4 separate regions of the Homo sapiens genome follow, and all the other regions are reported to be linked to region 3. Evidence: microRNA targets listed by miRTarBase, many of them from high-throughput screens and not tested one by one. Region 3 holds a microRNA gene; each other region holds the end of a gene's coding sequence.

Region 1 (3,184 bases), not on the chromosome of region 3:
TATACTTTAAAAAGATGAGTTGCTCATCTACAGTGATAACTGACAACTTAGTTTTGTGATTTTGCAAATCAAGATGCCTGGGTCATCCCCACTTTTGCTGATTCTGAAAGATTTCTTATAGAAAAACCCTGATTCAGAGTGCATGTGATAGGAGATACCAAAATAGCTGCATCTGGACAGGGAGGTTGGCTATTGAGCACAGCTGATTCTCAGATTCCTGGTTCCCCTCTATGGTCCTTTTACTTACTGTAGTGATGGAAGGAGAGAAGGAGCGCCCGAGAATCTGTTCAGATTGTGACTCCAGACAGCTCTCTGCACTGTATGTGGAGAAAAGAGTGATGGCATCCATTCAAACCATAGCAGCCCTACGGCACCATGCTTTTCTCTTGAGGGGTCAGACCAAACTGCACTCAAAGATGCATGATCTGCCTCAGGTGCACAGTGGAGAAAACGCTCATGATTTACAATTTGGTATTATAATACCCCCAACTAATCCCATTTCTTGAGAAAATGAAGTCTTCCTTTTAGGAAGAATGTTTGCTGCTAAGGCTTACCATGTTAATTATCACACGGCTGAAAAGATGACTTCTAAATCAGACTGTATTGTCTGTGTTCAGTTAATACGTTAACCAACAACTGAAGTTTGTGGAGGATTGGTCGAGGGGTGGGATTCAGGTTTTTGAGTACTATCACTTATCACAAATCTCATCAAGCTCTTTAAAAAAATAATGCATTTTTATCATAAATATTTAGAGCAGATACTGGCATTAAAATCAGTATCTAAGTCAGAAGTCTGTCTGAAATGGTGAAAATATTTCAACAAACTTCTAAAAGATTTCAAATCTTCCCAGGAGTACATAGTTTATAAATTAGTTTTAAATGGAAAAAAATATATATTTTGAATGGATAAATCACCACTTTAGCAGATCATAAATAAGGTCAAGATATTGAAAATAAGTTAACATACAAGTTTTTGCTTTCACATTAATAATAAAAACTAACTTACTTAGTATACTTTCATAACATGTACAACCAGGTTTCATAATTGTGCATCTGTCACCTCCCCACTTGGCTGAATCTTTTTCTTCCATTTCCTACACCTAGGGACAGAGGTACACAGACATCCCAGGGTGTGAGTGTGGCTGCTGCATGCTGTGTCCTAGTTAGAGCAGTGTTACAAATGCTGGTCAGGATCTATGATTAGTAACCTGTGAACCACGTTACAAGTGAAGGACATTCATGGTTAGGTGGATTCAGTTCCCAGGTGAGCTATCAGCGGTAGTGTTAGGGAACCTAACTACTATTCTTTCTGTGAGAAAATGCACCCCAAGTCCCAAAAGTTGACTAAAAACTTTGGAATAAGCCATGTATTATTAGTAGTGCATGGATGAGCACTACTTATATGTGTCTCTGTTTTGGAGAGAGGTCAAATTGTTAAAAGAACTATTTGCAGAACTACTTGGCTATTAAAAATAAATGTCTGCCTTCTTCATATGCAATTCATTGTAACTATAATTTCTAATACTGAGAAAGAAACAATGAAGCCATTCAGACTAGAGAGACATAATTGGCTTGTGGGATTTTCAAGATGTTTTATTGACTATCTAATTTGAATCTACTTACAAAGAGAAGAAAAATGTCTAGTATGTAAAGCAATGAATGAAAATAAATGTTTATCCTAAGTCATTATTGAGTACAAATCCACAGCTTAACAATGTGTTTTTAACAGCAGGAGAGCATGCAACTGCTCTAACACACAGGGTCAGAAATAAAAGGTAAAAGTACATTTGTTTTGTAACTGTAAATATACAAATATAAAATTTACCATATCTACCCTGTAGTGTGGCACTGCTTAACTGCCAAATATACAGTCATTCAAAAACCTTAAGGAAACATTGAAAATGTCTCAGGCTACTTTACTGAACATTAACGAATATTGTGTTCTTGAGCTATTAGAGCTAAAAGTATTATTTTTAAAGTTATATGAGCAAGGGAATAATAAAAGTATCATTTCACGTGTCTTTTAATCCCATAGACGGCTTTTTGTTAAAGGGATTAATTATGTTAAAAGGAAACTGATTTGACAAATAGAAACCAGTTCCAGAACCAAAGTTGTCCTCTTGGTAGAATGTCAAAATGTATATTATTTCCAAAGTATTTTCATTATTAATCTACTCAAATAATTACAAACAGTTTAATCAAGGGAGTCACTATTTAACACTTTTAAAATCTACACTGGCAGTTGGAATGGAACTTTTACAATGCTATTAAGGAACAGTTCTCTAGACTTTCATCTGCCCCTCAAAGTGACATCCCTGTTTTATGTTAAATTACCGACCTCTAAGGAATCAAAGGCATGTAGAGACACAGAATTGATATTTTGTTTGGGGAGAAGGGTAAAGATTATGTTGGAACATTTAGTCCCTTCTACAATCAAGTCCTAACTATACCATAATAAAGTCTCAATCAACTCCTAATTAGTTCTTCCCCTTCAGGAATTACATAGTATACAGTGATTAAATGCTGAAGAAAATAAAGAAAAACAATTGAAAATACCTGAAGAAATACAAACAAGAGATTTCTCACAAGGCCTTGGATCAAAAAAAAAATTTACAAAAAGATCTTTTGAAAATAATCACTATTTGTGAGCTTATTAATACACACAAATCATCACTTTGTTCAAATTAAGTCATGTTAATTTACCAATAAAATAGTAAACAAACCAACATTTTAAACAATTTTATAAATTACTCGTTGTTCCTTTTGTTAGTGTTTCTTTCTCAACAATATACAAAAATAACACTACAGGACTATCCACCTAACCTGTCTCCATCTCTTGCAAAGTCCTGGGACCTGGAAAGAGGCTGGTCCATCAATCTTCACTGTAGATGTCTCCCGCAAAGGGCAGGTGCATGTGGCTGCCAGTGACATTGGGCAATCGAGATAAGTCTGGCAGGCTCTGGATCCGGGACCTGAGTTCTTTGCGCACCAGGGAAACTCTGGCTAGCTTGCGCTTGTACTCCTGTAACATCAAACCACTTTCATTAGCATTCAGGGATTGAAAAAACTTCCTAGCTAATAATGACCTACATAAACCCAGGTACTATATATACTCAGTTAATGCCATATTTAAAAAGGTTATTCCAGTGTGAGTTTTCACATCAAAAGATGAGCTTTGGAAATA
Region 2 (3,151 bases), not on the chromosome of region 3:
AATACAAAGAGGAACAAAAAGTACCAAAACCAAACTTGTGATTCTCTGTTCATGTGGCATAAACCAGTTTTGTACATAACATGTAGCAGCAGTTTTTAAGTTCCCTTTAGAAAAATATGAATTCTACAAATTTATTATTGTTTCCTGTTTAATGCATGGGCTGAAATCACTAGGATCAATTTCCTTCTTGAAGAAAGAGGAGAGGAAAGAGACGAACAGAGGGTCAGAACGCATGGTGAATCTTCCAAAACTGGCATCCGACTGTTACGTAGCTTCCCCAGCGCTGCTTGGAACACAGCCCTCTGGGTTGTTTTGTTTTCACAGCCAGGTGTTTCATGTAGTGATTGAATCTCAGCATCATGTCCATTAATCAATGAGAAAAAAAAAAAAAAAAAAAAAAGAGAAAAAACTTGCACCTCAAAAAACTTTTCAGAAGATCCATATATATATATTTTTTTGTAAAAGCCCTGAGAGAAGGAGAAAGAGAATCAAACAAAATGTATAGAAACAAATTAGCTGGACATGCAAACTAAGCTATGATTCACCCAGAGTTTAAACAAATCACAAATTTCACAGTTTAATATTGGGGGGTGGGGGAAGGGCAAAAACAACAAACAAATAATACGTTTCTCCACCTCACTAATAAAATGTGGCAAGACCTTATTGACTACGAGGGTACAGATCAAGGCTAAGTAAAGCTTTAAATCAATAGTGATTATTGCGAGCGGCAGCCCCAGCTACACACGTCGCTGGGAGCTGATTACTGCTACATCTCACCGCAGCGTAGAGTTTAGTCACAGCTTCTCCCCACAATATTGCAAGTTTAGTGTGGAGAGTCGCAAAGAAAAAACACAAGAAACCCCAAATAATAATAACAACAAAAACAACAATAACAACTGTAATAATAATAATAATAATAATAAAAACCCTAAGGGATGTATGAACTGGTTTTAACTAAGTAGGCCAAGGGATCATTGGTTCTGATTTGCATTCATCTCTACAGTAAATAAAACCTCGTTTTTAAACTGGTTCATACACCCCTAATACAGTTAAAAATCATATATACCTCAACCTTTTTTCCTTTCGTATGCGAAGATATCACTTTTCATTATCTCAAGAATATCTATCTTCCTGTGAAGTCTGGGAGGTTGGATTTCAGAAACTGGTGAAGTGGCGGAGAAAAGGGGGCGTGCACGTTTCTGTGTGAACAAGTCTATGTAAAGGAGGAGCACTGGGGCCAGAAAAGGCCAGGGGAAGGAAGCTGGGGTACAGGGGTGCCTCCCCAGGGGAAGGCAAGAGGCTCCATACACTGCAGCAAGCACAGGGGTCCCCAGCAGCAGGCTGGCTGGGGACCCCTGAGGTCTTGGCTGAGGGACCAGGAGCTCAGGTGCAGTGGGGTACATTCTCCTCCCTGCAGGCGGAGACAGTGAGGGAAGTCTATTGCCTGCACAGGATGCTCATGGGTAAAAATAACCCTGCCTTTTTGCATCCAGGGGTGTGGGCTATTTAAGAAACTAGAAACAGCACATTTATCTTCAAGCACCAACCCCACATCGCAGGAAGGTAAATATAAACCTATTTCTTATCTGACATCTTGCATGTGTAGTTTTATTACCAGTAGTAGTATTTCCTTGCTTTGCAAATGACAGTAGCACAGCTGGGTAAGGCTTGGATTAGGCTTAGCAGGAAGACTGGGAATACCTCGCTCACGAGTAATGTGCCTGGTCACTGGGTCACTGCTTTGCTTTCTCCAAAGTCATCTCTGCAGTGCTCCAGGCACGGCCCTGGCTTCTTGATGCCTGTTCCCTGGATGCATGCATCCTCACTCCACCCTCTCTGAGCTGCTCCTGGACCATGCTTGGGAAGACTGCTCACGGCCCCTTCTAAATTCTGCAGTGACAGAAGAAAGGCTTGTCTCATTACAGTAGAAGAGCTACCACCCGAGGGTGCCAACCACAACCGCAGGCACACGTTAACACGGGGACCTGGGTGCGGCACAGGTCTCCCAGGACAAATATTGCCCATTTGATTCTGCTCACTGCAGAGAACAGCAAACTGATGAACTAATAATAATAATAATAATAATAATATTAATAATACATATACTGAAAGGGAAGAGGAGGCAATCAAATATATCCTATCCGTGCATGTTTTCCATAGGTTAAGACGCCAGGGGAGTAACTCTTCTCTATAGTTAAGAATGGATGTCTTGAAACTTGAACAGTGACCATGTCTAATGCTGACAGACTGGAAATGGACATGAGGCTGAAGCTAGAATCTTCCCTGGTTTTGGCCTGAAACCATATTGGAAACCTTCATCAACCACATCCTGTAATACCAAGGACCAGATGACAGCTCCACCATGAAGCACAAAGAAAAAAGGAAAATGTCTATTTAAGAAATTATCATCTTATCCATCTTTCCTCTGGTCATTTACATGAAATTCACATCATTTTCTTCCAGTTATTGGCTATGGGTACCCAAGGGTATGTTTTTTCCTTCTGTTTCCAGCTCACAGAACAAACGGTGCTATCACAGATTCACAAGAACAAGCTCACACACACCAATACAAAATAACGCTAATGCTCAAATGAAGAGGTCCTCTCCAGACAATTCATTATAATATTTGTTTTGTTTAAGAAGTCATTTTGGAAAAATACAACACCCATGATAATATGGAGGGATCCGGTAAGTAGTTAAGGCACTGGAATCGGCACGGGCTGTGGCCTCCCGCGCAGGCTGCGGTAAGGCTATGGCACTGAGCGAGCAGCCACGCTCCTGCTTGTCTCTCTCTCTCTCTCTCTCTCTCTCTCTCTCTCTCTCTCTCACTCCTCAACAGCCAAAGGGCACTGAGGAAACCCCATGAAGTATAGACGCTTTGCTCTGCTGGCTTTTGTCTGTGCTGAGGGGGACTGAGGCTGTCACTCCATCCCCACGAGCTGGGAGGCGCCATCAGCTGTGGCCAGGATTGGGTGGGCAGGCCTCTTGCTGCGCGGCTCCAGCAGGTCCTGCCCCAGGGCCGCCGGGCTCTCTGGGTTAAGGTCACCCTGGCCAGGCTCAGACGGCCACCCTGCCGTGACCTTCTCCTCCCTGTGGCTGCAGTCCTTGGTGGCACTGGCCAAGCCCTCCTTCCGGCTCCGGGTGACAGCCA
Region 3 (3,184 bases):
TCTCCTGCCTCAGCCACCCAAGTAGCTGGGACTACAAGCATACGCCACCATGCCTGGCTAATTTTTTATATTTTTAGTAGAGATGGGGTTTCACCATGTTGGCCAAGCTGGTCTTGAACTCTAGACCTCAGGTGATACACCCGCCTTGGACTCCCAAAGTGCTGGGATTACAGGCATAAGCCACTGCACCCAGTCAAAAATGAGTTTTTTAATGCAACATCACATAAAGTAATAACATAGACAATAAACGTTTACTGAATACTTAAATATGGGCTGAGCATTGGGTTGTTTCACATGGAAAATCCACACAACAGCCCTATAAGACATTAATGTACAAGAATAAAGGTGGGAAAAAGCCAAAACAATTTTGTAAAAACGAGAGAAATCAAGAGCTGCTATACCAGATCACAAAATACATTAATGTTCAATAATAAAAATAGTACTAGTTAAAAAAATAAAAAAAGGGAGACTATATAGCCCAGAATGATAATAGAACTTAATATCCTCCTTGTTACACTGGTGCTTTTTTTTTCTGAGAAAGGGTCTCACTCTGTTGCCTAGGCTGGAGTGCAGTGGTGCCATTTCGGCTCATAGCTCACTGCAGTCTCTGCCTCCTGGGTTCAAGTGACTCTCCTGCCTCAGCCACACAAGTAGCTGGAATTACAGGCATGTGCTGCCACGCCCAGCTAATTTTTGTATTTTTGGTAGAGACGGGTTTCACCATGTTGTCCAGGCTGGTCTTGAACTCCTGAGCTCAAGCGATCTGCCTGCCTCAGGCTCCCAAAGTGCTGAGGTTACAGGCATGAGTCACTGTGCCCAGCCTACAATGGTGCTTTCTAAATGAGTTTATATTTATGAGTGATCTTGTAACACACACAATTTTAATTCCTATGCAAACACTTTTTGCTCGTATTATACTAGGCAAGTGTGGTTAATAAATAGGAAAAACAAGTTATTTCACTGTGCTTTTTAATCTCAGCATCAGATTGATGTTGATATTCTGCTATCCTGTCAATACATTATCTAAAACAATAAAAACAGCTGCGTTTTATATATAAAAGTGGCTCCCACTGGGTACCGTGGCCCATGGCTGTAATCCCAAAGTTTTGGGAGGCCAAGCAGTATGAATTGCTTGAGGCAAGAGGATCAAGACCAGCTTGGGCAATACAGTGAGACCGCCTCTCACAGTAGTAGGGAAGACATAAGTAAAACTCAGTCATGACTGGCTTGAGTTGTTTAATGTTGGCACTAATTAGCACAGCAAAATGGGTGGTGCTAATCTTTTAATTTCCTGCTTGGTTTACGAATATTTGGATTATATTAGTGCAGTAATAGAGTTAGAGTACCTAGTTATAATTCCATATTTTTAACATCATCTCTAATGTTATAGCCTAGGTTTTCATTAGCATAGGTTTGTTATAGCATAGGTTTATGTTATAGCCTAGGTTTTCATTAATAAAATCTCTGGAGTGAAGCAGCTGCTGCTGAAATTTGGGGGCAAATAACTGCAGCCTGCTGGGAATAGGACTTCTAAAAGGAAGTATGTCTGGAAGGCTGTGGCCCAAGGCCTTTTCTGCTGGCTAAAAGCAGGGTCTCCAGAACCAAAGGAAACACACAGCTCTTGTTAAAATTGAAGATGTTGACGCATGAGGTGAAACAGAATTCTCTTTGGGCAAGAGATGTGCTTATGTACATAAAACAAAGAACAACACAGAGACTCCTGGCGGCAAACTAAACAAAGCCAGAGTAATCTGGGCCCATGGAAACAGTGGCATGGTTCGTGCCAAATTTCAAAGCAATCTTCCTGCTGAGACCATTGGACACAAAATCTGAGTGATGCTGTACCCCTCAAGGATTTAAACTAACGAAAAGTCAATAAATAAAAGCGGATTTCTGCTCTTGAAGAAAAAAAGAAAATCTCTGCAGTTTTTATAAAAATTAGTATCTATGACATTTAAAATTATATGACCCCACAGAAACTCAAACGTATCATTAAAGTGGCATTACAAAGTAAAGAGAAAAGGAAGAACAATTAATAGATTTCCTAAAGAGAAAAAAATCCAGTCAGTGTATTTCGAGGGCAAGGTTAAGCAAGATACGACGCACCTTGCTTAACCTTACCGTCCAAATACACTGACTGGAATCGTTGCTTTCTTGATGGAAAGAAAAAACTCAGTTGACCATATGAAAATAGGAACATTCAAGTACCATAAACATCTGGGGAAAAAAAAAAACCCTTTACTATGAAGACATATTAAAAACTTTTTTTTTTTTTGCTTATCCAGATGGCTAAGATTTGAGAAATTAAAATTCATGGCTGGCAAAGTTGTGACAGAATAGACACACAGTGGGGTATACGGTTCTATAAATTTCCTAGAGAACTATTTGGAATATTGTGAAAAAACATTAAAATGCTCATATACTTTGAGGAAAAAAATCACTCCTAGTAATTATAACAAAAAGAAACAACCTTTTATTGACAAAGAAAGATATTCACTCCAGGATTATTTATGAGGGGAAAAAAAGCCAAAACAACCTAAATATTCAATGGCAGAGAACAGTCTCTCTCTCTCTCTCTATAGCGTACACATATATAATCGTCATTTATGTAAATATGGTTATGTATACCATGATGGAATAGCATACCTCCACTGAAGTTTTAAAGACTAATGACATGGAGGAAAGCACACAGCATACAATAACTGAAAAGAACAAACCATTAAATAGTATATTTAAAATTTTAAGCACTAACTATAGGCAAGATGTCATGTTAATGTATTATATATTATTAAATCAAATTCCTTCTCAAACCCCCTGAATACATGCTATTTAGTATACGGTACTTTCACAGAAAAGAACATTAAAAGATGACATAAAAAATACTACCAGTGATTACTCAGGGTGGTGAAAATGCGGAAAATATAAAATTTTCTGCAATTTAGTTTTTTCCCACGAGCTTATATTACTTTACTTTTAGAAAAATGGGCTTAACATTAAGTTAACTAAATTCTGTTGCATCACAACTAGTGGGAAATTATTTTTTGGAAAAAAAACAAAACTTCACAATAGAGTCTGTGGTTAAATAACAAGGATTGTTTTTTAAAAACAAAACAAAACAAAAAACAAAAAAACCCCACAAAAATACTGTGCTGTAAATTATCCGAAATCAATTATAATTTAGAAC
Region 4 (3,167 bases), not on the chromosome of region 3:
CCATTCCATTTGTGTTGCCAATTGTTTCAATAGCGTCTCATGCACCCCATTGGTGAGGAAGGAATTAGCACCCTATGTCTACTGGTACCGTTAAACACATGACATCTATTACTAAACAGATAAACTAAACATCAGTTATTAATTACATACAGGAGGATGGTGTAAGCTCCCACAGGCCCAAACAGGGATTAACTTGGGAGCAGAGAGTGGTACAGCATTAAAAAAGTGAGGATGTTCCTTTGTTCCTACAGGAGTATGTGATTGGTTTGTCTGTTGGCTGGTAGGGAACTGAATCATGTGACACTGACTGGTAAGACTGTAATACTGTAAAATACACAAACTATAATACCGTAACGGTGTAATACTATATACAATACCAAAGGCATTGATGAAAAACCCAACGCTATCACATGTGACTGTGAGACTGAATGCTTCCTCCCTCAGACTGGTTACAACATATTGTCCTATCACAGTTCTCTCTCCTTCATTCAAAGTGAACTATGCAAATAACAGACAGAAATAATAAAGAATAAAGGGCAACAAATGCAAAGAACTCACGAGATGATACTCTATGATAAACTTTATGTACTTAGGAATTAATACCAACTCATTATTAGCAAAAAATAAACATCTTTACACCAAGAGTAGTTTTTCCTTTAATAAAAAAAGGTGGAATGTGTATAATGGACAAGGGATAACCAAAATTTGCCAAGTGAGGCTAGTAAGAAAATCGCAACAATTAGCAATCATTACTCACTGGTCCATTAATCACAGAACAATACATACAAATTAAACTTACTCCGCTGGGCACAGTGGCTCATGCCTGTAATCCCAGCACTTTGGGAGGCTGAGGGGGGGCAAATCATGAGGTCAGGAGTTCAAGACCAGCCTAGCCAACATGGTGAAACCCTGTCTCTACTAAAAATACAAAAAATTAGCTGGACATAGTGGTGGGCGCCTGTAATCCCAGCTACTCGGGAGGCTGAGGCAGGAGAATTGCTTAAACCCAGGAGGCAGAGGTTGCAGTGAGCCAAGACCGCACCACTGCACTCCAGCCTGGGCAACAGAGTGAGACTCCATCTCAAAAAAATAATAATAAAATAAAAAAATTAAACTTACCTACATATTAGAAAAACATCAAAATTCAACCATGAATCCAGCACATTATCAAATGAACAGACAAAAATTCTACCAACAAACTGAAGAAAGTATCATTACTATGAAATTCAAGTACTGCTTAAAAAGCATTTACAGAACTCTCACCTCAAGGTTTTCCTGCAAAATAAAGTGAAATGCATACTCAAGACTCTTTAAGAATGAGCCACTGATGAAAACAATATACTTGCAACTTGTGTAACATTTCATACATGTACATTTTTTTCAAGCACCGCACGATAATTAATTTGCATCAGGCTTTCCAAATTAGAAAAACTTCACTTATAGAACTTCTTTCCAGTGGGAGTTTTCACGACTTTTCAAATAAATGTTAAAACTGAAAATATTCTTGCAGTTTCTAAATATTAGTTGTAATCCTGTGTACATTTTTGTATTTACAAGGTCCAGCTGCAGTGTGCATTTTCACATGTCCTTGAGCAGATATGAGAGAAATGAAAACATTCCCACATTCTGGACATTCATAGGGTTTTTCTCAGGAATGAGTTGATGTCTTCAAACGGAACTAAAACAACTGAAGGCCTTAACACAAATTTAAATTTAAAAGGCTCTTCTCCACTCTGAGTCCTCCCAAATCTTCAAAATAGGAAAATCTGAAGGCTTGACCACATTTCCTACATTCTTAAGGTTTTCTGAAGTGTGAGCTCTTTCATGTTTATGAGGGAATGGGAAAGAGTAAATGCTTTACCACATTTCTTACACGCATAAGGCCTTTTTTTTGAGACGGAGTCTCACTCTGTTGCCAGGCTGGAGTGCAGTGGCACAATTTCAGCTCACTGCAACCTCTGCCTCCTGGGTTCAAGTGATTCTCCTGCCTCAGCCTCCTGAGTAGCTGGGACTACAGACACCCGCCAACACACCCAGCTAATTTTTGTATTTTTAGTAGAGACAGGGTTTCACCATGTTGGCCAGGATGGTCTCGATCTCTTGACCTTGTGATCCACCCACCTCGGCCTCCCAAAGTGCTGGGATTACAGGCGTGAGCCACCATGCCCAGCCGCATAGGGCTTTTTTGAGATGGAGTCTCACTCTGTCACCAGGCTGGAGTGCAGTGGTGCCATCTCAGCTAACTGCAACCTCCAACTCCCCGGTTCAAACGATTCTCCTGCCTCAGCCTCCTGAGTAGCTGGGATTACAAGCATATGCCACCACACCCAGCTAATTTTTGTGTTTTTAGTAGAGACGAGGTTTCACCATGTTGGCCAGGATGGTCTCAATCTCCCGACCTCGTGATCTGCATGCACAGGGCTTCCCCGCCTGCTGCGCACGGCTTTTCATGTCCTTGAAAAACAACTAAGACAACTGCAATGTGCCACCATGCCCAGCTAATTATTTTTTTATTTTATTTTATCTTATTTTTTGAGACAGAGTCTCACTCTGTCACCCAGGCTGAAGTGCAGTGGTGCGATCTCGGCTCACTGCAAGTTCCGCCTCCCGGGTTCATGCCATTCTCCTGCCTCAGCCTCCCGAGTAACTGGGACCACAGGCGTCTGCCACCACGCCCAGCTAATTTTTTGTATTTTTAGTAGAGACGGGGTTTCACCGTGTTGGCCAGGATGGTCTCGATCTCCTGACCTCGTGATCCACCCGCCTCGGCCTCCCAAAGTGCTGGGATTACAGGCGTAAGCCACCGTGCCCGGCATTATTTTATTTTTTGTAAAGACAGGGTTTCACCATGTTGCCCAGGTTGTTTCACATTGTTTTAATCCAGGCTGGTTATGAACTCCTGGGCTCAAGCAATCCACACGCCTTGGCCTCCCAAAGTGCTGGGATTATAGGCTGAGTCACTACACCCAGCCTCTATATCATGACTTCTTTCATGGCGAGTAAGGTGACTGGAACGAGTGTAGGCTTTACCGCATTTCTTACATTCATAGGGTTTTTCTCCAGTATGAATTCTTTCGTGGAGGTGAAGGGAACTGAGGCGACTGAAGGCTTGATCACATTGTTTACATTCATAGGGTTTCTCTCCGGTATGAGTACTTCTATGGTTA

Evidence for each region. The annotated mature microRNA hsa-miR-4804-3p reads UGCUUAACCUUGCCCUCGAAA and lies in region 3 at 2,073-2,093, opposite strand. An mRNA with a match to its seed (bases 2 to 7 or 8) in the 3' UTR can be bound and repressed. Matches are read on the target gene's strand: a 7mer-m8 pairs with bases 2 to 8, a 7mer-A1 pairs with bases 2 to 7 and ends in A, and an 8mer does both.
Region 1: miRTarBase lists RPRD1A as a target of hsa-miR-4804-3p. Seed matches in the 3' UTR shown: 8mer at 1,850-1,857 and 7mer-m8 at 1,707-1,713.
Region 2: miRTarBase lists RREB1 as a target of hsa-miR-4804-3p. The part of its 3' UTR that is shown has no 7-base or 8-base seed match.
Region 4: the mRNA of ZNF669 is a reported target of hsa-miR-4804-3p. The part of its 3' UTR that is shown has no 7-base or 8-base seed match.

Annotation. Positions count from the first base shown.
Region 1 is chr18:35,990,279-35,993,462 of GRCh38, forward strand. It overlaps RPRD1A (regulation of nuclear pre-mRNA domain containing 1A), which reads right to left. Exons shown (of 7, transcript NM_018170.5): 7 at 1-3,022. The coding sequence ends at 2,873. Among named protein-coding and RNA genes, the nearest start is that of RMP24, 19 kb to the left of the region's middle.
Region 2 is chr6:7,248,739-7,251,889 of GRCh38, reverse strand. RREB1 (ras responsive element binding protein 1) reads right to left here. Exons shown (of 13, transcript NM_001003699.4): 13 at 1-3,151. The coding sequence ends at 2,922. Among named protein-coding and RNA genes, the nearest start is that of SSR1, 63 kb to the left of the region's middle.
Region 3 is chr5:72,877,544-72,880,727 of GRCh38, reverse strand. MIR4804 (microRNA 4804) reads right to left here and starts at 2,137; the gene lies at 2,065-2,137. All of the region lies in intron 9 of TNPO1 (transportin 1), which reads right to left. It also overlaps the pseudogene RPL35AP13.
Region 4 is chr1:247,097,469-247,100,635 of GRCh38, forward strand. It overlaps ZNF669 (zinc finger protein 669), which reads right to left. Exons shown (of 4, transcript NM_001142572.2): 4 at 2,494-3,167. The coding sequence ends at 2,906. Among named protein-coding and RNA genes, the nearest start is that of ZNF669, 5.3 kb to the right of the region's middle.